Regions from separate parts of the Homo sapiens genome. Here region 2 is linked to region 1. Evidence: fine-mapped expression QTL. Tissue or cell type: whole blood. Region 1 holds a variant in brackets; the other region holds the start of a gene. All regions are shown on one strand. Distances are from middle to middle.

The links.
Region 2: it holds the start of SP3, and the variant in region 1 is fine-mapped to the expression of SP3 in whole blood (TOPMed, PIP 0.91).

The regions. Positions count from the first base shown.
Region 1 is chr2:173,927,694-173,939,136 of GRCh38, reverse strand. All of the region lies in intron 4 of SP3 (Sp3 transcription factor), which reads left to right. Among named protein-coding and RNA genes, the nearest start is that of SP3, 32 kb to the left of the region's middle. The variant G/T (reference allele first, on the strand shown) is at 4,695.
Region 2 is chr2:173,960,349-173,971,791 of GRCh38, reverse strand. SP3 (Sp3 transcription factor) reads left to right here and starts at 6,419. Exons shown (of 7, transcript NM_003111.5): 1 at 6,419-6,627; 2 at 7,239-7,387; 3 at 7,909-8,031. The coding sequence starts at 6,621. RefSeq lists silencers at 6,172-6,241, 6,742-7,021, 7,352-7,841, 7,972-8,221 and enhancers at 7,082-7,904, 7,905-8,728.

The sequences.
Region 1 (11,443 bases):
GATAATTCTTGCACTAAAGGTGCTCATAATCTAACAAGTTAGACTATGATTTCTCAACCTCTGCACTGTTGATATTTTGGGCCTGATGATTCTTTGTTTTGGGGCTGTCCTCTGCATTGTAGGATGTTGAGGAGCATTCCTGACTTACCCACTAGATGCTGGTAGCACTCTGTACCCCAGGCAGTTGTGATAATAAAAAAAATGGCTTCACACATTGCCAGATGTCCCCTGGAGGACAGTTCTTCATCTCCCCCTTAAGAATCATTGGGTTAGACAGACATGCACATGATTCTAGTATAATGTGATAAATGGTATATTAACATTGAACCCCACAGCACTTTAGAAACAGGAATAGTGGAGTAACCTTCAGGTTGACATCTTTCAAGACTTAGCCCAGATACTGCCTTATCCCGCAGCCTTCCCTTCTTCTTGCCACCTTTGAATTACCGCTTGTTTAATAGCACTTGTCCTTTGTCTTGTATTATAGCTAACATGTATTTCTTGTTTTGGGATTGGGCAGTCATTGCTTACTCATCTTTTTTTTTTCTGCATTCTTTTTTTTGATGGATAAAATGAAGAGATGCCAATAATAGATACAGAATAAACGTAGATTTGTGTGGAAATGTGTAATGTAAATTTTACCTGTTTGGTTGCTTTTTTTTTTTTTTTTTTTTTTTGAGGCAAAGTTTCGCTCTTGTTGCCCAGACGGGAGCACAATGGCACTATCTCGGCTCACTGCAACCTCTGCCTCTTAGGTTCAAGTGATTCTCCTGCCTCAGCCTCTCCCGAGTAGCTGGGATTACAGGCGCCCACCACCACGCCCGGCTAATTTTTGTATATTTAGCAGAGACAGGGTTTCACCATGTTGACTAGGCTGGTCTTGAACTTCTGACCTCAGGTGATCCACCCTCCTTGGCCTCCCAAAGTGCTGGGATTATAACTTTGTTCAGATGTGATAGTTGCATTCTGTGTTTCATACCTCTACCAATTCTGTAATTGTGTTAAATTTGTAGCTTTTTAAAAACTCTTGACATTAAGAATTATGTTTCAGAAGCCAACATATAAACCTGTGGGGGAAGAAACTAAGAGAAGCAAGAGGAACGTTAGGTTTAGTCTTACGTGCATATGAGAGAATTTAGGAGAATTAAATGACTTGCCCTAAAGTCATTTTTTAACACTGTAGATTTAGTGTATTTTTATTCTAAGAATAACATGATGAGAGATTTTTTGTAAGTTCTTTATCTTTGAGCAGTACATAATGAAATATTTGCAGATGAAATGTTATATCTCGGATTTGTTTCAAAATGAGGTAGTTTGGGTTATACATGAAATAGAATTGTCCCAGAGTTTGTGGAATTTGGGTGTTGGGTACATGGGAGTTTGTTATGCTTTCCTACTTTGGTATATATTGGAGATTTTCTAGAGTAAAAAGGTTTTGAGAATGTGAGTTTTAGCCTCATGTTTTTAATGAGTAGAAAATTTGGATTAAAAAATATTTTAAAACTTCTTTTTAAACATTTTTTTCTCGGACTTTAGTGAGCATCAGAATTATTTAAAAATTTTTTTTCAAGAAATTTAACATAAAGTAAGATTGGACTTTAATTTTGGTTCCAACATCTCCTGTGATGTTTGAGTTAGTAAGCTTTGTTCATAGTAACAGCTTGGGCAGGGTTTGTATACTTACTTGATTCACAAGTGGAAGAGGATTTTATGGTTCTGTTGTGAAAGCCTTGAAGATGAAGTTTTGACTGTTTAGGCTATTTCCCTGCATTATCTCTTGTGTTAATGAAGAAGGTAGTTGATAAATTTCAGGGGATAACCAGTCACACTAAACTGCAGTGGAAGTGTTCTTGGTTTTTCTTGCATATGAAGGGGAAAGTCAGATAAATTTTTAATAAATGTCTTTGCTGCTTTCATTTGGCAGCCTTGTTTGGGCACAGGGTTAATAAAGGCTCAAGAACTTGAGAGAGCGGGTGAACAAGTTTCTTACTGTGAAAATGTAAATAGTCAACTGTGTGCTTTTTTTGTATTGTCTGTAGAAGTATGTATGTGTTCATTTTCTCAAGAAGCTTACAGATTTATTGGAGTATTTAAGATAGATACATGGAGTAGTAATCAACAATATAAATCAGTGTGTGATCTGCAATATAAATCAATATAGTAAGTCACTAAATTGCATGATACAGATAACTGTGTAGAAGTTCAGAGGAACAGAAAATCAAAAAAGGCTCCAGGAGACCTAATAGAGAAGAGAGAAGTTTAATGGGGAATCTAGATTTGTATAGGTAGAGAGATGAGAGGAAGATGTTTACTAACAAGGTTTAAAAAAAAAAAAGGTAAGAATAGAGGCAAGGCAAAGTGTTTCTCCAAAAATGGTTCGTAAGATATTAATAGGTATTATTAAATGTTATAAAAATGCTTATTAGCATGTTAAAGTTTCTGAGAAATCCTGTGGGAAATAAACCTATTTAAGGAAAGGAAGCAGCATTTTTTTCTTTTTTAGATTATACATCTGTATTGATTAGTATTTCATTGGGTTACTTGTGAGGAACTACTTTGGGAAATGCTGTTATAGCATGAATAGAAATCTGGGCAGTTTGGTGACTGGTGGCTGATAGGACACATTTGAATAAGTATGGTGAGAGAATGAAAAGCACTGAATACTATTGGTGAGGGTTGCACTATTTTTAACCTTACTTAAGGAGCCTTTGAAAGTTTTTGAACAGAGGAATAACGTGAATAAATCAATGCTTGGAAGACATAACCTTCAGAACAGAGTGGAATGGGAAGAAACTAGCACTAAAGAAGGTAGGAGCGGGGCCAGGCATGGTGGTTCACACCTGTAATCCCAGCACTTTAGGAGGCCAAGGCAGGTGGATCACCTGAGGTCAAGAGCAGCCTGACCAATATGGTGAAACCCTGTCTCTACTAAAAATAGAAAAAAATTAGCCAGGTGTGGTGGCGTGTGCTTGTAGTCCGAGCAACTCAGGAGGCTGAGACAGAATTGCTTGAACCCAGGAGGCATAGGTTGCAGTGAGCTGACATTGTGCCACTGCTCTCCAGCCTGGGTGACAGAGCGGGACTCCGTTTCAAAAGAAAACCAAAAAAACAAAAAAGGTAAAAGGGGCTACTTTATTTAAACAGGGAGAAAGTAAGGAAGGAAGGAAGAATGCCAGACATTTCAAAGTATGAATTTTATAGGATTGGTGATTAGCTATCAGGAATACAAGAGATGAATCCGTTGGTGATTAGCTATCAGGAATACAAGAGATGAATCCGTTGTTTTAAAGTTATATCATTGGCACGTTTGTGAGGGGAAAACTGATCTGGGGACTCCAAGATGACACTAGTTGGAATGGATTGAATTTGTGGTTGAAATAATTGTTGCTAGTAGAGATGGAGGGCTGAGCCTAGGACAAAGGAATGGAATTCTGTAGGAGATGGTTGATAGACACAGTTGAAGTCAGGAGAGTTGATAAAACTGAGCAGGGGAATTATAAAAAGGAAGATGTTTTGGGAAATTTTGGGGATGGTGGAGTGTGGACCATAAAACGTGCAGGAAGTGTGTACATTTTCTACCATTTCTGAGATACTCTTTTAGGATAATAAAGTTTTAGTGGGTAATATATTTCTTTGGGTGACAGGAAAACAGGATTTCTCTTTCCCCTGACATTTGGCATTGTAAAGTTTAGTTTGCACTCAGATAGTTTGGTTTTGATTGTTTTGTTGGTTGGGTTTTGGTTTTGTCTTACTATTTTCCATCAGGAAAGCATCTACATGGATTGTCTGTCAGTTCTAGATAGTTCTAGCAGAGGTGATAACCTCTGCTTTATTTAAAAGTTAGCTTCTTTTAACCTGGACTGATCATTAATAAGTTAGAACACCCAGCTTTATGATTTTTGGAAACAGGGTCTCACTGTCTCACCCAGGCTGGAGTACAGTGGCATAATCATAGCTTACTGCAGCCCCGAACCTCCTGGGCTCAGTCAGTTCTCCCGCCTCGGCCTCCAATTACAGGCATGAGTCACTGCACCTGGCCTAGAACATCGACTTTAAAACAGGTTTTGGAAGAAAGAATTAATTGCTGGTATCTGATACCAGTCGACATATCAGTACACTTATTCCCTAAGCAAAATTTGCTGCTATATTTACATAAGACCTTCTTTGTGATGCTTTTTTATTTTCTACCACTTAAAGTATTTAATTCCCATTACTTCATGTAATTCAGCCATTCATTACCTTGGATCCTCTTATATGCCAAAATTCTTTCTTGAATGTTTAAGTGAAGATGGAATAGAATGTATTTATTTTTAGAAGAAAGGAGTTTCAGCCTTAGAACTGTAAAAGCAAAGCTTTTGACCTTGAAGGTAATACCTTATATTTGTTGATAAATAAGTAGAGTGCTGATTTAATTTTTTTTTTTACTTTTTATGTTTTATAGTGATGGGGTCTTGCTGTGTTGCTCAGGCTGGTCTTGAACCCCTGGCCTTGGGTAATCCTCCTGTCTCCCTCCTGAAGTGCCGGAGTTACAGGCCTGGCAATTGACTTTTTTGTTACAGTGTTAATAAATGGCAGAAAGTTAACTTTAAAGGGTGTAAGGAAATCTTTTTGAAAATTGGTGAAAATATCTTTAGTTTTGATTAACATTATGTCATTTATTTCCTGCTTTCTCCCTACTTTTTATAAATAAATTG[G/T]TTTTTTCACTCCTGTTTAATTTTCTTTCAGCCTATACTTGTTTCAACAGCAGTAACCACTCAAAAAGACTTGGTAAGAAAGTTTTAAAGAGGATTTAAAGTACTTGATGGCCAAAATGAATTTAAAAAATGGTATTTGATGTCTGTTTCCATTTTTGCTTTTTTTCCCATTCTAATCAATTAAGTGTTTGCTCTTTTTTTTTTTTAGAGACAAGTTCTCTCTCACTCAGACTGGATTACAGGGGTATGATTATAGCTCACTGCAGCCTCAAACTCCTGGGCTCATGTGATCCTACTGTGTTAGCCACCTGAGTAGGTGGGACTACAGGTGCCCCGCACTGTGCCTTGCTAATTTTTTTATGTTTTAATTTTTTGTAATGATGGGGTCTCACTATGTTGCCTAGGCTGGTCTTGAACACCTGGGCTCAAGCTATCCTCCCACCTCTGCCTCCAAGTAACTGGGACTACAGATGTACACCACCACATCCAACTCTTATTTCCGCTTTTCATTTGCTTTTATTAAATCTTCAGGAATTTCGTTGAAGGGCAAATGATGTTCCATGGTAAAGAAATTTTATTTGTCTTAGATTTACTGTTTTATCTAGTTAATGGAAGTAGTTTATTCAAGTAGTATAGCTCTACCACTTTATCATTTCATTTGCTTTTTGAAGCAGGGTTATATCAGAGCAAAAGGAAAATAAAGGTAGAATTTATTGAAAACGGTTTGAAAGTTTTAAATTGTGATTTTATAAATGTTACTTTATAACTTTTATATATATATATATATATATATATATATATATAAAGTTTTATAAATGTTAGTCATTTGTACTGTCTTCCTAATATTTCTGGTTCTCTTCATGGGCACACCGAAGTTGGGTGTAGCCATGGAGCTTGCTTTGGCCAATGAAATACGTCATGGTGATTGATCCATTAACATTGATTCATAAGTCAGGAAAGCAGCATCAGCTGACTTATGATGGATGTGAATAAAAAATAGACCTTTGTTTTAAGCCACTGTGATTTGAGGGGTTGTTACTGCAACTTAATTTTGCCCTGCTCTGTTATATAGGGGAGCCATTAGCCCTGTGATGCTATTAAGCACTCGAAATGTGGCTAGACTGAATTGAGATGTGCTGTAAGTGTAATAAAATACAAATTGAATTTTCAAGTTTTAGTATAAAAAATAGAATGTAAAACATTTCATGAATAATTTGTATTATTGATAAAAGATTGAAATTTAATTCTTTGGATATATAGGCATGCTTTATCTTATTGTGCTTCACAGATACTACTTAAAAAAAAATGAAGAATGTGGCAACCTCGCATTTGAGCAAGTCTGTTGACCCCATTTTTCCATCAGAACGTGATCACTTTGTGTCCCTGTGTCACATTTTGGCAATTCTTGGAATATTTCAAACCTTTTCATTATTATTTTTTATTTTTGTTTTTGAGACAGTCTCGTACTGTCGCCCAGGCCTGGAGTGCAGTGGTGCTATATTGGCTCACTGCAAGCTCTGCCTCTGGGATTCAGGCCATTCTCCTGCCTCAGCCTCCCGAGTAGCTGGGACTACAGGACCCCACCGCCAAGCCTGGCTAATGTTTTGTATTTTTAGTAGAGACGGGGTTTCACCGTGTCAGCCAGGATGGTCTCAATCTCCTGACCTCGTGATCCACCTGCCTTGGCCTCCCAAAGTGCTGGGATTACAGGCGTGAGCCACTGCGCCCGACCTTCATTATTATTATACTTCTTAACAGTGATCCGTAATCAGTGGTCTTTGATGTTACTGTTGTAATTGTCTTGGGGCACAACAGACCATGCACCCATAGAAGGTGAACTTAATTGATATAAAGGTTGTATGTTCTGACTGTTGCAACGACCAGCCGTTTCCTCATCTTTCTCCTCGGGCCTCCCTCCTCCCTGAGACACAACAATATTGAAACTAGGCCAGTTCCAGGCACGGTGGCTCACTCCTGTAATCCCAGCACTTTGGGAGGCCGAGATGGGCGGATCAGTTGAGGTCAGGGGTTCAAGTGCAGCCTGGCCAACATGGTGAAACCCATCTCTACAGAAAATACAAAAATTAGCCGGGCGTGATGGCAGGCGCCTGTAATCCCAGCCACTTGGGAGGCTGAGGCAGAACAATTGCTTGAACCCAGGAGGCAGATGTTGCAGTGAGCTGAGATCACGCCATTGTACTCCAGCCTGGGCAAAAGAGCAAAACTCTGTCTCAAGAAAAAGAAAAAACTAGGCAAATTGATAATAACCCTACAGTAGCCTCTAAGTGTTCAAGTGAAAGGAAGAATTGCACATATCTCACTTTAAGTCAAAAGCTTAGAAATAATTAAGCTTAGTGAGGAAAGCATATTGAAAGCCCAGATAGACCAGAAGCTGGGCCTCTTGTGCCACACAGCCACGTTGTGAATGCAAAGGAAAAGTTCTTGAAGGAAATTAAAAGTCCTAGTCCAGTGAACACGTGATAAGAAAGCAAAACAGTCTCATTGCTGATATGGAGAAAATTTTAGTGGTCTGGCCAGATATACCAGCCACAACATTCCTTTAAACCAAAGCCTAATCCAGAGCAAGGCCCCTAACTCTTCAATTCTGTGAATGCTGATAGAGGTGAGGAAGCTGCAGAAAGAGTTGGAAGTTAGCAGAATACTGGTCCATGAGGTTTAAGGAAAGAAACTGTTTCCATAACATAAAGACAAGGCTGCAAGTGCTGATGTAGAAGCTGCAAGAAGTTATCCGGAAGCTAAGATCATTGATGAAAATGGCCACACTAAACAACAGATTTTCCGGCTGGGCGTGGTGGCTCACACCTGTAACCCCAGCACTTTGGGAGGCCGAGGTGGGAGGATCACGTGGTCAGGAGTTGAAGACCAGCCTGGCCAATATGGTGAAACCCCATCTCTACTGAAAATACAAAAATTAGCCGGGCATGATGGCGCACACCTGTAGTCCTAGCTACTCGGGAGGCTGAGGCAGAAGAATCGCTTGAACCCGGGAGGTGGAGGTTGCAGTGAGCCGAGATTGCACCACTGCACTCCAGCCTGGGAAACAGAGCGAGACTCCATCTCAAAAACAACAACAACAAAAATGCCAGGCTGGTCTCGAACTCCTGACCTCAAGTGATCTGCTCGCCTTGGCATCCCAAAGTGCTGGAATTACAGATGTGAACCACCGCGCCTAGCCAGCAACCACCATCTTGATCAGTCAGCAGCAATTGACTTTGAGGCAAGACCCTCCACCAGCAAAAAGATTACGATTTACTGAAGGCTCAGATGATTGTTAGCATTTTTTAGCTGTAAAGTTTTTTTAAATTAATGTACTTTTTGTTTTTTTAGACATAATGCTGTTGCACACTTAATAGACTGCAGTATAGTATAAACATATGTACTGGGAAACCAAAAAAATGTGTGGCTTGGTTAATTGCAATATTAGCTTTATTGTACTTGTCTGGAATCAAATTTGTAGTGTTTCTGAGGTATGTCTATATTAGGTTAAATGAAATATATTAAAGTTAATTTTACCTTTGAGTTTTACTTTTTTAATGTGGCTGTTAGAAAATTTGAAGTTAACGTACGTGGCTTGCATTGTATTTCTATTAGACAGCACCTATATTATTACAGCCTATCATCACTTAAGTCAAAATTTATACAAGGAATAGTATGCTCTAACAAAAAACTTCAACTGTGGCATTGGCCTGAGGATCAGGCAGCAAGGAAACTGATGTTAGATGCTAGAAACATGACGATGCAGAGAACAATATTATTATATAAAACTTAACGTGCAGTAACTTGGAAGGCAAGTAATATATTTAATGCATTTGAAGCTTTTGGGACAAGGTTGGAAAACAAATTGTATTTTAACTGGTACTGGTTTCATTTGACAAGGTGTTATAAGAAAGAGATGAGCTAGAAAATAATTGGTTAGTTTGCAAGTATGAATGAAAAGCAATACAGAGTCCAGAAATTTGGGAATTTGTAGGATTAGAAGAAGCAATTACTGCTGCACCTTTTTTTTTCTTTTTAATTAAATTAGAGGCAGTCTCCCTGTGTTACCCAGGCTAGTCTCAAATTCCTGGGCTCAAGCAATCCTCCCACCTTGGCCTCCCAAAGTACTGGGATGAGCGACTGTGCCTGACCAGTAGTTGCTTCTTACCTCCAATCAGTAGGAGACACAACTGAAAAGGCTTTTGAGTAGATAATTAAAATTCATCCTTTTGGTAGGATCCAGTCAGGGTTATGACCATCACTTCCATTGTTAAAATGTCTGAAAGGATTAAGGTAATTCAGAGTAAAGGCCAACTTGAGAGGGAATTGCTTTTCAGTTGGGTTAGGGAAAAGAGACTAAAGGTATGGAACCCCTGCTAAAGCCAGGTAAACTCAAGGTACCCATAGTTAGAGAGAAATAGACACACTGTCTCATGGGGCAAGAAAGCAAAGAAAAGTAGTAAATCTAAGAGGCATATCTTAGAAAAAAGCTTTGGTTCTGGACATTGGCGCTTGGAATTGGATAGAATCAAATAGATAAGCCTTCTAATTTTTTCAGGGAGAGGCATAGACAAAAGTCTGAATAAAGTATAACTGCTTGATACATAATGATCTTGCTCTCTGCCCCATACCTCCCTGACCTATCTGCCTGCTGAGAATTCTGCTCTGCTAAGGAGTCACACTCTCTGATGCTCACTTCACTTGTAGCGTTAGAAGATAACAGACCAGGAAAAACCTTCCAGAAGGCAGAACCTAGAGGCACAGAGAACAGCAGACTTAGAAACTCCTCCCAAGGGTCAGTCAGAGCATTCCCCACCTTCCAGGACAGAGAGCCCTTGCACAATCTGTTCAGCCTGGCTTATGAATTGCTATGAACTACTGACTGTTGTCTTCTTTTCTTCTTTTGAACTGGAGCATTTTTTATATTCTGTCAGTGTGTATTGTGTGTGTGAAGGGAAGTAGATAACTTGTTTTAATAAATAGGTCTCTGTGAAGAGGGGCTGCATCTGGACTTGATATAGAGGTGATTTCCCCATCAGCGCAGATCCTGTCCTTTGATCTTGATGCTGAGACTGGATGGGATATTTGGGTTACCTTCTGAATGGAGGGACAGGTGTATTTTTTCATGTGGGAAGAATAAATATTTGACAGCAGGGGACTAGGGAGTCATGATTCTTCATAAAATAATCATTGAATTGCCCTTTCCTTTAATTCTTAATGTCGGGCATGGCCACGTGCCTTTTTGTAACCAGTAAAATGTGAGTGGAAGTTAAAGAACAGAATGTGATTTGCCACGTTTTCTTTCACCTTTGGCAAGGCAACCTTGGAAGCATGTATCAAGTGGAGCCTGGAAGCATGTATCAAGGGGAGCCTGGACTCCTGAGGCACTGTCATGATCACATCTCCCTTACCAACCTGAATTGGACATTTGAAATTAGTGAAAAATAAATTTTTGTTGTATCAAAGCCATTGAGCTTTTGTGATTGATGTTACTGTAGCACAGCTTCACTGATTCTGATTAATGTGTTAGATTATAATTTTGGTCAACAAATGTTCGCTCAATATAGTTGTTCAATAAATGTTTGAATCAAATATGTAAAAATTGGAGGGCAAAAGAAAAATGTATAAATTCTAAAACTGCCAAGATCCAGGTCTTTGGCTTTTATTCTTTGTGAAAGCCAACCACATGGTGACTAAGGGTCCTCTAATTATATAGGTAATACGGCAGAGATGATTTAGGTAGCAGACACGGGAAAATAGAAAACAATGAAGCTTGTAAATAACTAGGGGTTCAAAGCAATACATAGGTGTCGTTTAGTGGATCATTTAAAGCATTTTTTCTTCTATTTATATTGATACCAACTCAGGATTGTTTACAGTCTGCAGAAAGTGTTGGAACGGAATCATTTTATTTACAGGCAGTTCTGCTTTTTTTTTTTTTTAATGAAGGAAGAAAACCCCAAACCATGTGTTTTTGTTGTTGTTGGTTGGTTGTTTTCCCCCTAGCCATTGCAGCAGTGGCAGAAACATCAGTTTTAGTCCAGTGCTAGAGCAGAGCCTTTTCCTCAAATGACATCTTAGGCAGAACTCCAGTGTATAAAACTAATATTAATGGGGCTGCTCTGACTTACATGAGGGCCTGGGGCCCTCTTCTCTGCTGACACTTAACAGTTTGAAATTTCCTGTACTGAAGCAGATATACCTGCCGTGGCCATCTTCATTTTGAAGGGTTTGAGTTTCTTAAGAGTAGCCTTAGATCCTTTCTTTAGTCCTAATTTATTTAATGTTTATATACAGTTTTAACAATTCCGACTGCTTTCCAAATTTAAAACTGGCTTAGAAAATGTACAGTAGAAGGGATGATGGGTACGGTAACCTGGGAGGTGGAGGATGGAGAGTTGATATCACCAGAGTTGGGAAGAAGGCAGGAAAAACAAGTAGAAGAAATAAAAAACTATAATTATGAATGTTTTTAGTTCAGTGTTCTAGGGCCTATTTGATACCATAAATTACTTTTAATAATGAATTGGAATAATTAGACAAAGATTAAATAACGTTCTGAGCTTCCTGCCAAGGAAAGTAGGTAAATGTGTAATTGATTCTGGAGAAATTTTTGTTCAAGATATCATAACTATCTTAAATAACTGATGCCCTGAAGGTTTTGAATTTTAGAAGTTTTTGATGTATTTTTAAAGCGATACACAAATAATTGAAAGTTGAAATAGTAAATAATACTGTTTTCCAAAGTTTAA
Region 2 (11,443 bases), 33 kb before region 1:
CTTGTAGAGCAGGGTTCAATAAATGTGATTTCAATGAACAGGTAGCTGAGAGTGTCTGCAGGAAAACTTGGCAGGCAGCATCTGGTAAGTGGCTGCCTATGGGAGAGGGAAGGGAGGAGATGTGTCAAAGGTAATTTCCCGTATGGGCTTCTGAGAGAATGATGGCCTCACTGTCACAGACAGAAGCATCAGAGGGGAGGAGGAGCTGGTTGTGTAGAGAAAGTTATGAGTTTAGTTTTGAACATTCTGAGTTTGAGGTGAAAGTGAGACATTCAAGAGGAATTCACAGTGCTTAAACATATAGAACATGGCCGGGTGCAGCGGCTCACACCTGTAATCCCAGCACTTTGGGAGGCCGAGGCGGGTGGATCATTTGCAGTCAGGAGTTTGAGACCAGCCTAGGCAACATGACGAAACCCCGTCTCTACTAAAAATGCAAAAAAAATTAGCTGGGCATGGTGGCGTGCACCTGTGGTCCCAGCTACTCCGGAGGCTGAGGCAGGAGAATCGCTTGAACCCAGGAGGTGGAGGTTGCAGTGAGCTGAGATCATGCCAGTGCACTCCACCCTGGGCGACAAGAGTGAAATTTTGTCTTTAAAAAAAAAAAAAAGGATATAGAACAAGAACTCAGGTGACAGGAGATAGAGATTTGGGAGTGAGTTTGGAGATGAGGGCTGACATTGCAGAATGCTGTGTTTCCAGCTTCTGAAGAAAAGCTCGGGGAACCAAAAACAAAAGAAACCCTAAAGCAGCACTGTCTGATAGCCACTAGCCACATGTGGCCATTCACATTTAACTTTAATTAAAATAAAAAAACCTTCAGTTCTTCAGTCATACTAGCCACATTTCCAAGTTCCTAATGGTCACATGTGGTTAGTGGCTATGGTAATAGGCAGTGCACACAAAGAATATTTCCATCACCACAGGTAGCTTTTTATGGGACTGCACTGTAAAGATACAGAGAAATATATATTTGAGAGAAAACCAGAAAGCTGATAATGTTCAAGGGAGGGGAGAGTGTTAAGAAGGAAATATTTACAGTGTCAAATGCTGAAATTGGGTGTAGAATTATATTAGGAAGGCAGTAGGAAGACAGCAAGTTACTGAGACTTTGGACAAGGAAAGGGAGGAAAGAAAAAAGATAGTAGCTAGGGACAACCACAGTCACATGGAGGATTTTTAAAGATAGGAAGGAATGTTTATCTTCAAACATAGCTATGTTTGAAGACAAATGGACAAAGGCCTGTGAAGATGGTAAGAGTCCCCAAACCCAAGCCTGCCCTTGCTTCTCTCTGTGGCTCTAAACTCAATTTGACAACAGTCTGTTGGCTATCCATCTCATGGAAGTCCTGCTAGCACCTCCAGCTCAGCACATCTAAGAACAAACTCATAATGGCCCACCACTTACTCATGCCCTTTTAAGATCCTTTACTTCAGTTCATCTTTCCAGTTACTAAAAGCTGGGAAACTTAGTATATTTGAATCATTCTCTTTTGCCTCCAGCCCTTTGATCAGTTACCTGGGCATACTTACTGCAGTACTTCTCCTATCAGTTACTTTTTTTTTTTTCTAGTTTAAAATAATGCTCATAGTATTTCAGGCAAGGAGAACAATATAGAGAATACAATAATAATACACTCAGCCTAGCTTAAGTTAAATTTGCAAATGTAAACAAAGCCCATGGGAAACTCATTCAAATGCCATTCTCCTCTTCATACCAAGGGTAATCACCGTTTTAAATTTAGCACACCATTCCTTTGCAATTACAGTGTTACTACATATGTATATATCCATATATAGTATAGAATATAATTTGGTACATTTAAAAACTTTATATAAATACAGTAGTAGCATAACATTTATTCTTCTATAACCAGGCTTTTTTCACACAGTATTGAGATTTATCCATGATGGTCATCTCTTTTAATTAATTATGGATTGTTCTGTTTATATATTAATGCATATATTATACATATATACTTATGTGTGTATAGATTATACATATATATGTGTGTGTATAATTGCATTTTTTATTCCAGCTGTTTGGTTGGAATGGAGTGATGACATGGTGCAGCACTCAGCCATTTTAGGGGGAACTCGAAAAATTCTGTTCCTTAAAGCAGGTAAAAGCTGCCTTCAATATTTTCTACAGTTCTATCCAACCTTCTCCTAACCACATCATTTTTTTTTTCCCCTTTCTCTTACCTTCTCTAACTAGGCTTTGGGTATCATTGACTCTTTTGAGATTAGTTGTTGTTTATGTCTGGTTTATATGACCAAAGAAAATAAACAAATTCTATTATCTAATTGAATCATAAAGTATGAATACACTCCATGCTGAAGGTTGTTGCTCCTCATTTAAGGACATCACACTTTAATGGCTTGAGGTTATTTATTACTATTTTTGAGAAAGGAAGAGATGAAATATGAGGGGGTTAAGTGTATTTAATGTAAACTAAAATGTTTCTGAAGTGTGATAGTGATTATGTAGTAGAACAACTTAAGATCCTTGAAATCCAGTGTGAACAGGTTAAAGAGCTCTAGGATGGTTAAAAGTAAGGTCACAATAATAGAAACAAAGGTTATGTTCTTGAGACATTAATTTAGGTTGAATGATATAGAATTGTCACCTTTTAAGATAAAAAACAGTTGAATACTGGCAATTTCATATGGTCCACTTGATAGACGTTCAGGAGGGAAGAAATGCAGAAGTAGGGAGTGTGAAGGAAAGGGCATAGGTCTTCAGGTGTGGTACCGTCAACCAGGGCCATCACTTTTTAATACTGAATGGCTAGGCTCTTGCAGATGTAGATCAAACCGTATTTAGTTGTCTCTTCTGTTTGTAGGGAAGAAACGGGTTGCAAAATATTCCATGCCAACAGGTGTATAGAAGCCTTCAGGGATTTTTCACCGTCATCACATTTCCAAAGGATTTAAGAAAACTTACAAAAACACATGACATTTTAAAAAGTGAGGAAATCGAGGATATGGGAAAAGAAAGTGACATCCAGATCTCCTAATATGATGTAAACAATGGCCAGCACAGTACTTCCTCAAATCGTTTTGGAAGAAAAAGTATAAATAATATCCAGCACTGTGATTCTCTCCCTGCTAAGCAACTGCAATTTTGGGTTACTATGTAAATGTAGCAGTAGGTGCCATTGAGAGGCAGCTTTCTAATAAGAAAATAAGTATTTTAATTAAATTGTATTTCGGCCGGGCTCATGCCTGTAATCCCAGCACTTTAGGAGGCAGAGGCGGGCGGATCACAAGGTCGGCAGTTCAAGACCAGCCTGGCCAACATGGTGAAACCCTGTCTTTACTAAAAATACAAAACTTAGCCAGGCATGCTGGCGGGCGCTACGTGATCCCAGCTACTGGGGAGGCTGAGGCAGGAGAATCACTTGAAGCCGGGAGGCGGAGGTTGCAGTGAGCCGAGACCATGCCATTGAAAAAAAAAATTTGTATTTCAAGATTTGACTACAATACTGAAATAGGTAGGAAAAGGTGTTCTTTCAAGAGACTATCTTCATTTCCAGCCATTTTAAAAAGCTATTCCATGACAATAACTCAAGTGTGGTCTAAGAGGGTTCTCTGAATCTGACTAAAGTAGTGAGTGATGCTTTTGGTATATGCATCTTTTGTTAAAAAATTTAAAAAACGGATACATATTTGTACATATTTATGGGGTACATGTGGTATTTTGATACATGCATACAGTGTTGTAATGATCAAATCAGAGTGTTTAGGGTATCTATCACTTTGGACATTTTTTTTCCGCCCCCTCTCCCCTGTCACCTTGAACATTTGTCATTTCTTGTGTTGGGAACATTTCAAATCTTCCCTTCCAGTTATTTTGGAATATAAAATATATTGCTATTTACTATAGTCACCCTACTGTGCTATTGAACACTAGAACTTATTCCTTCTATCTAACTGTATGTTTGTACCAATTAACCAACCTCTGTCACCCTACCTCCATATGTATCTCTTAAAAGCATCGCATCAAAAGCAGTATAGTTAGTTCAGGTAGGTTTTTTTTTTTGGGACAGTCTCAGTCTTGCTGGAGCGCAGTGGTGCCATCTCGGCTCACTGCAACCTCCACCTCCCAGGTTCAAGTGATTCTCCCGTCTCAGTCTCCTGAGTAGCTGGGATTACACGTGTGCGCCACCAAGCCTGGCTAATTTTTGTATTTCAAGTAGAGATGGGGTTTCACCATGGCAATCAGGCTGGTCTCGAACTTCTGACCTCAAGTGATCTGCCTGCCTTGGCCTCCCAAAGTGCTGGGATTACAGGTGTGAGCCACCACGCTCAGCTAGGCTATTTTTTTCTTTTTCAGAAGTGTTTTTTTTGCTTGTCAAAATGGTCTGCGGACGTGCCGTCCCCACCCCCCAAAAAAGAAAGAAAAAAGACAATTCATGTCTCATATCATTTGCCAATTGGTATCAATGAAGAAACGAATTTAACTCCTGTGGCCAAGTACTTTGCTCTCAAGGTGGCTGGACTAACACTTTGCAAAAAGGGTATGGCGATAGCGTAGAACATATCCCCACTCCTGAAAAAAAAAACAAAACAAAACTGAAAATGCCTGAAATATCCTTTCTAGGGAAAGAGCTACCTTCCACCCAAGAGATCCGGGTAGGAACAGAGTGATAATAGTGACTTCCCTTCCTCCCTCCCAGTCCACTTATTTTCACCTGTCCCGCTCTTCAAGGCACCCATCTCTTTTTCCATTTTCCCCACCCCAAATCAGGTTATTTTGTGACTTTTATTTCCTTAAAAGTTTTTGTTGTAAAATAGTACATAGGTTATACGACTCAACTTTGAAAGTGACTTTTCCACTTAAATATGAGACTACAAGGACTATTAGAAGAGATGAACCCTATTCTTGGACTCAGAATTTTGAGTCTCGTTTCCGCATGTTTGTGGTTTTTAGGTTAATTCCCTGGAAATTTGATCTTTGTACAATTAAGAGCAAAGTAACCATACAATGTTTCTGATCCTGTCAGCATAGGCGGTTAAGTGCTTTGGAACTGGGATGTAAACTCAGTATCTCACAAATGGATTACCTATTAAGTTAGGACACACAAAATCTGGTTAAAGTGCTTGGACTTCACAACCTCATCCACCAGCACATCACATATCACACAAAATATAATAATCACAGTAATGGGAAAACTGAATCTTGAGCCAGATTTCTAAAAAACAGGTATTGTGGACAGTGTTTCCACCTCTTGAATTTAACTTCTTTCTTGGCAACTATACTTGAAGGTAACAGGGAGAGATGTCTCTTAGTTGGCAAAACACACACTTAAAACCTGAGCATTTTCCCCCAGGATGACAGCAAGATACCAAGGATGCCAAAGAAGGAAGGAGTGTTAACCTAATCCAGTAAGAGAAACAAGATTTTAAAATACAACAAAAATGTTCCAATGGGGGAAAAAAGGTAGTTCACCGGTTCACGACTTTAAAAAACGTTGGCAGTGGTTGATGGGCTTATTTCAGGAGATATCTGACTTGGTACCAAGAGGATAAAGAGGCCGGGAATAATACGTTTGTGCAGCAAAATGGTTATGTGACCGATTTTTTAAAACACAGAATTCTGCCCCACTGAATACATACACATACCACAAGTAAAATGAAATATACTTTTAAGTGCCCGTTTTGGTGCCACTGGCCAAAATTAAAACTCTCCTTCCGTATGTGAGGTGACTTGAGATTTCTTTTTTGCTTTAAATGCCTGCCTTCAGGGTACGTGAAAGTGGGAGACCGGTTGGAAAACTGGGGCTAAGGGGGCTGGGAGCGAGATGGCTGTGACTGAATCAGGAAGCTGGATGTGAGAGAGAAAAATCCTCCTCCAGCCTCGGAGGGGGTGTCTCCCCTAATACCAGCTCCCTCCCCCCGGGCTCGTGGGGCGGGTCTGGTTTGCTCAGTAGCGGCAGCGGCCGCAGCAGCAGCCCCGGGGCTGAGCAGCGGTGGCCTCCTGGCAGCGCAGGGAAGCGGCGGCTCCAAGAGCGCGAGGCCCTGGGGAGATCCGGCCAAGACTGCTGCCGGGATGGAGGAAGCGTCCAGTGGAGCAGGAGTCACCGGGGACGAATTTCCTCCCCAGCTCAGCTCCCCTACAGCTTGGCTAGGCCTGCTCCGAGCGCCTGCAAGGTGGAGGAGGCCTGCGCCTCGGGCCTGGCAGCGGCAGCCGGCGAGGGAGGCGGGCACAGCGGGGTAACCGGCGAGCCGTAGCCGCTCTCGAAAACCTACGCTGCCACGGCCGCTCATTGTCTCTCCCCTTCCACCCGGGGGCAAACAGGAAGCGCGCCGCCTGGCAGACCGACGGACAGGCGCCTGGACCAATGAGCACAGCCGACAAAGAGCACGGCGGCGAATGAGAGCCAAGAAGAGGGGCGGGAGTTCCGGGCGGGCTGTCACCCTCTTCCCCCCTTTTGGGCTGGAGGCTCCACCTTTTGTGTTTCCCGCACAGTCAATCAAAATAGGAAAAAAAAATCCCCGGACCGCTCCGGCCGTGTCCGCCGCCGCTTCCCGCATCCTCTCCCGCCGCCGCCGCCTTCGCTCCTCACCATGTGTAAGGCGGCGGGGAGCCCCGCCTGAGGTGCCCTAAACACACTATGACCGGTACGTAAAGCCGAGAGAGCAACCCTTGCTGCTGCCGCCGCCGCCGCTGCCGCCGACCACAGCCAGCCCGGGGCCGCTGCCGCCGGTCTCGGCCCCGTGTGTGCGACCGAGTGTCTGTGAGAGGCAGAAAGCTGCACTCCCCTGCGCCTCCCTCCCCTCCCCGCCAGCCACCGTCCACCCCCGAAGCCCCAGCAACGCCGTCTCCCCGCCAGGCCCCGGGGCGGGCGGCCCGGTCCGCCGGGAGCGCATCCCCCTGTGTGCGGGCGCGGGCGGGCGTGTGTGAGTGACTGACGGTGCGAGAGGAGCGAGCGCGAGTGAGAGCGAGCGGCGCGAAGGGAAAGGGGAGGAGAGGAGAGGGGGCAGGGGCAGCGCGGGGAGGAGGAGGAGGAGGGAAAGAGGAGGAGGAGGAGGGTTACAGGCAGCGGCGGGCGGGGGCAGCAGCAGGAGGGGAGGAGGGAGCCGCCGCCGCCGCCGCCGCCGGGGGGCGGGTGGGGGAGGGGAAGGGGCCTGGGTCCGGGCTTTGGGAGTAATTTCGCTTCGGCCCGCGGGCCCCCTCCCTCTCCGCCACCCGCCTTCCTCCCCACCCCCACCCCCCCGCGCTGTGCCTGCAGCTCCCGAAAAGCCCGTGAAACAAGAGGAAATGGCTGCCTTGGACGTGGATAGCGGCGGCGGCGGTGGCGGCGGCGGCGGCCACGGCGAGTATCTGCAGCAGCAGCAACAGCACGGAAACGGTGCGGTGGCGGCGGCAGCGGCGGCCCAGGTGAGGAGCGGCTGAACCCCGGCCCGGCTCCCCCCTCGCGCCGCTTTCTCCTCCCCTCGCCTCTCCCCTCCCTCCTCGCCTCACCCCTCCCTCCTCGTCTCTCCCCTCCCCTCCACTCCCCTCCCCCCGCCCCGGGAGCTGCCCGCCCGAGGCGCCAACGCTCCGACCCCGCCCGCGCCGCCCCGCCTCGCCCGCCTGCCGCCTTTTTGTGCGCGTGTGAGTGTGGGCCCCAGCGTGCCCTCCCGGGGGTGGGTTCCGGGCGGAAGGCGGAGGCCCGGCGCGCAGCCCGCCGCCCGCCTGCCCGCGGACCGGGGAGCCGGGGTGCTTGGAGCGGGGGACGCCAGGCGTGGGCTGGCGGCGGGACCAGGAGGAGGAGGAGGAGGAGGAGGAGAGCGCGGGCTGGCGCTTGCCCGGGCGCAGTCGGCGGGGACCGAGTCGTACTTCCTGTGCGAAAGGCGGCCCGACCCTAACCGCCACCCCCTCCCCCTGTCTCCCTCTCTGAACCCGCCCATTGGGGGTAGGACACTCAGCCGTCACCGCTCGCTCTGCTGGCCGCTACCTGCAGCAAGATAGGGCCGCCATCGCCGGGCGACGACGAGGAGGAGGCGGCCGCCGCAGCCGGGGCCCCCGCCGCCGCCGGAGCGGTAAGTCCCGCGCGCGGCCCGCCCCCGCCGAGGCCGGGCGCCCGCCATCCCGGACCCGTGGCGCGCCTGCCCAAAAGGCCTCCCCGGCGCCCGCGCTTCCCCCGACCCGCACGGGCCGCTGGGCTCCAGGGCGCCCTTTCCTGCTCTTTCGCATCCCGGTTTGGATCTGAAGCCAGCCCAGGCTTTCTCGAAATTGTCACTGCAGCACCTCGCGCAAAATCTTCACAAAATGAAGTCTGAGAGGGCGGGGGTAGAGGACTCCAAAATGGATGTTTGAGCAATTCATATCAGTGCTGAAAACTCCTTCGCTTAACACTACAAAATTTTCAAGCACAGCCTATCGGCCATAGATAGTATCAACTAGAGGCAATGTCTTTAGTTTTTATTATTTTTGAACCTGGAGCATTTTCTGTTGGACGTTACAGGATCTTACTGCTTTAAATCATACATTATTAAAAAAAATGAGGGTTTATTCTTTGAATTACCCTTTTGTATGCAGGAGTGAAGACTGCTTTTTTAGTTGACCATTCAAAATCGTTGAATTTTAGTTTTTGCAGACTACTAAAATTTGCAGTGACTTTTTTTTTGTAAGGGGGGTAAATGAAACATTTAGCAGCCTTTGAAATCAGCAAGTTGCTTAGATAGTACTTTAGATTTTGAAACTGAATATAACAGTGTTAGAAAAGTATGTGTAAGGAATTGTATTTACGTGCATACTAGTAGTACAATACTTATAGCTGAATTTGGTTGGCAAAAGTATGTTTTCATTTTATTACGACTGCTAGTCAGGTAAGATATGGTGGGATTCTTTCTGTAGTGTTTTCAGTGTCTGGGCAAGGGGAGGAGCTCGCCTGTGTTATATGAGGGGTTAATACCAATAGGATAGGAACAGTTTTTAGACTGTTAATTGTGAATTTTACATTTGGGTCATCACTGTTGTGTAGATTTGTTCACCTATTAAAATAATGAAAACCCTCATTTGAGTGTGTGTGTGTGGTGGATCATAGGAATTGATTTGTGGAGTGATACTTTCAATAGTCACTGAAGACAGAAGTTTGGTATTTGGTATAGTCTACAACAAATGCTTAGTATGTCCAGGTATTTTTTTTTTTTAAGTTAAACCAATGTTAAGCTATTACTGGTAAATAATTTGTAATTTTAGTGCTTCGTTATAGGGGATGTGAATAGTTTTAATGTCTTGTTTTTTCATAAGCAGATTAACATGTAAAAATGTAAAATTATATTAGGCTTTGTTATTTTTAAATACATTTATGGATTGGTACGCCTTCTGTTCACCTCATTTCAGCTTCGCTGAGAGTTGGTAGATTTTTTTATGAACTGTATCCCTCTAGTTCCAAAGTGCCAAAACAAATTGACTGTATCTTAAAAAACTACTGCATAAGTAAAATTAAAAAGCAGATTGCTTCTCCTGATCTTTTTTGTATTTCAAATGGAACAAAACTTTTCTTGTAACTGTAATTTGTAAAGTTTAGATATCAGTTTACAGATGGGGGAGGGGAGAAGGAAGGAAATATGGGTGAATAATATGTGTATGTACATACATATGTGAGTCTGAGGCCCAAGGATAGAATACTGTCTCCAACCTTAGCCAGCTGTGGCCATATACTTGTAGGGAAGTTTCCATGCTTCTTCAGCTGCTTTTCTGAATTACCAAATCACTCCTGACAACACATATTCTGCCACATGAAGACGAACTAGAATCAATCTGATAAATCTGAGATTTATCAATCAAATACATCATAATTTGCCAATCATAGTAAAATGAAAATAGTTTTGCCTAAAAAAAAAAAAAAAAAAAAAAAAACCCAAACCATATATTTATGATGTCTGGTACCTGCACCCAAGATTTTTCACTTTGAGTAAAATTGGTAAGACTGGCTTGTGTGTATTTGCCTTAGCAAATAGAAAATTTGCTAAAAATTTATTTTTCCAGTGCAAATATGAACTTAAGACATCTTTTCAGCACATCTTAGAAAAGGAAATTCACATGAGTTCATGGGCTTAGATAATCTTTTATTACTCAAATGACTGGGAATTATGAGAGGTTATAGCTGTGTTTTTAAATAATTGTATTTTGGAATAATTTTAAATTTATAGAAAAGTTGGAAATACAGAACTGAGTAATCTCATACCCTTCATCCAGCTTCCCCTAATGTTAGGATAATGATGATACATTTGTCCAAATTAAGACATGAACATTGGTATGACATTACTAACCAGACTTTGTTTGCGTTTCACCAGCTTTTCCACTAATGTCCATTTTCTCTTCTGGGATCCAGTCCAGGATTCCACATTGCATATATATTGTTGTGTTTAAACAAGTGGAAATATACACATACAGATGAACTTTATGCCAGTTTAGCTTGGTATTTTGAGATTAAAAGGGCCTTGAAAAGCCAATCAACTGTGCTGAAGATTGCTTTTAATATTTGGATTTTGAATTTGGAATTTGTCATAAAAGAGGATCCTAGCCAAGGGTGTTTGGTTACCCACAGTACATTGCTGAAGAAGTCTAGTCATAAAGCAGTCTCGTATATAATGTCGTACAACATGGACTCTGAAAGATGGTTTTATAGCAACGCTCCTTTGTACTTAAGTTGTGGCTAATTTTAGTAGTAAACCAGGAAATAGAAAAAAGTAGACCTTTGTGCAAGTATTAACTTTGACCAGTTTGCATTTATGTGAACTTGTGGATTATTAATTTACTTCATTTTTACTTTAGTGGAATAAAATAAGTGACTTTTATTTTTATTTTTATTTTTTTGAGACAGAGTCTCACTCTGTCGCCCAGACTGGAGTGCAGTGGCGCGATCTCGGCTCACTGCAGGCTCTGCTTCCTGGGTTCACAGCATTCTCCTGCCTCAGCCTCCCGAGTAACTGGGACGACAGGCGTGTGCCACCATGCCCGGCTAATTTTTTTTTTTTGTATTTTTAGTGGAGACAGGGTTTCACCGTGTTAGCCAGGATGGTCTCGATCTCCTGACCTCATGATCTGCCCACCTTGGCCTCCCAAAGTGCTGGGATTACAGGCGTAAGCCACTGCGCCTGGCCTAAAATAAGTGACTATTATGAAAGTGATTGCTTGATCTTTGGTTTAGGTTGTAAATTTAGTGTTCCTTAATTTGGCACATAAATGTTGAGCTAAAAAATAAGTAATAGCTTACTTCAAAAAAGTTATTTTGCCATTATTTAAAATAAGACCTGTGCTGTCATTGTAACTAATTCATTGGGTAGGGTAATTCTATTTGAAGTCTGAGTTCTTTTAGTGCTCTTTGAAGATTTTAAGAAACTTGAATATTTGCCTAAGTTCTTAATTTGTTTCCACCTCAGCTTCACACCTGTTCTTGTTTCCAGTTATACTCCTTCCTTTCCTATTTCTGGCTTTCGTAAA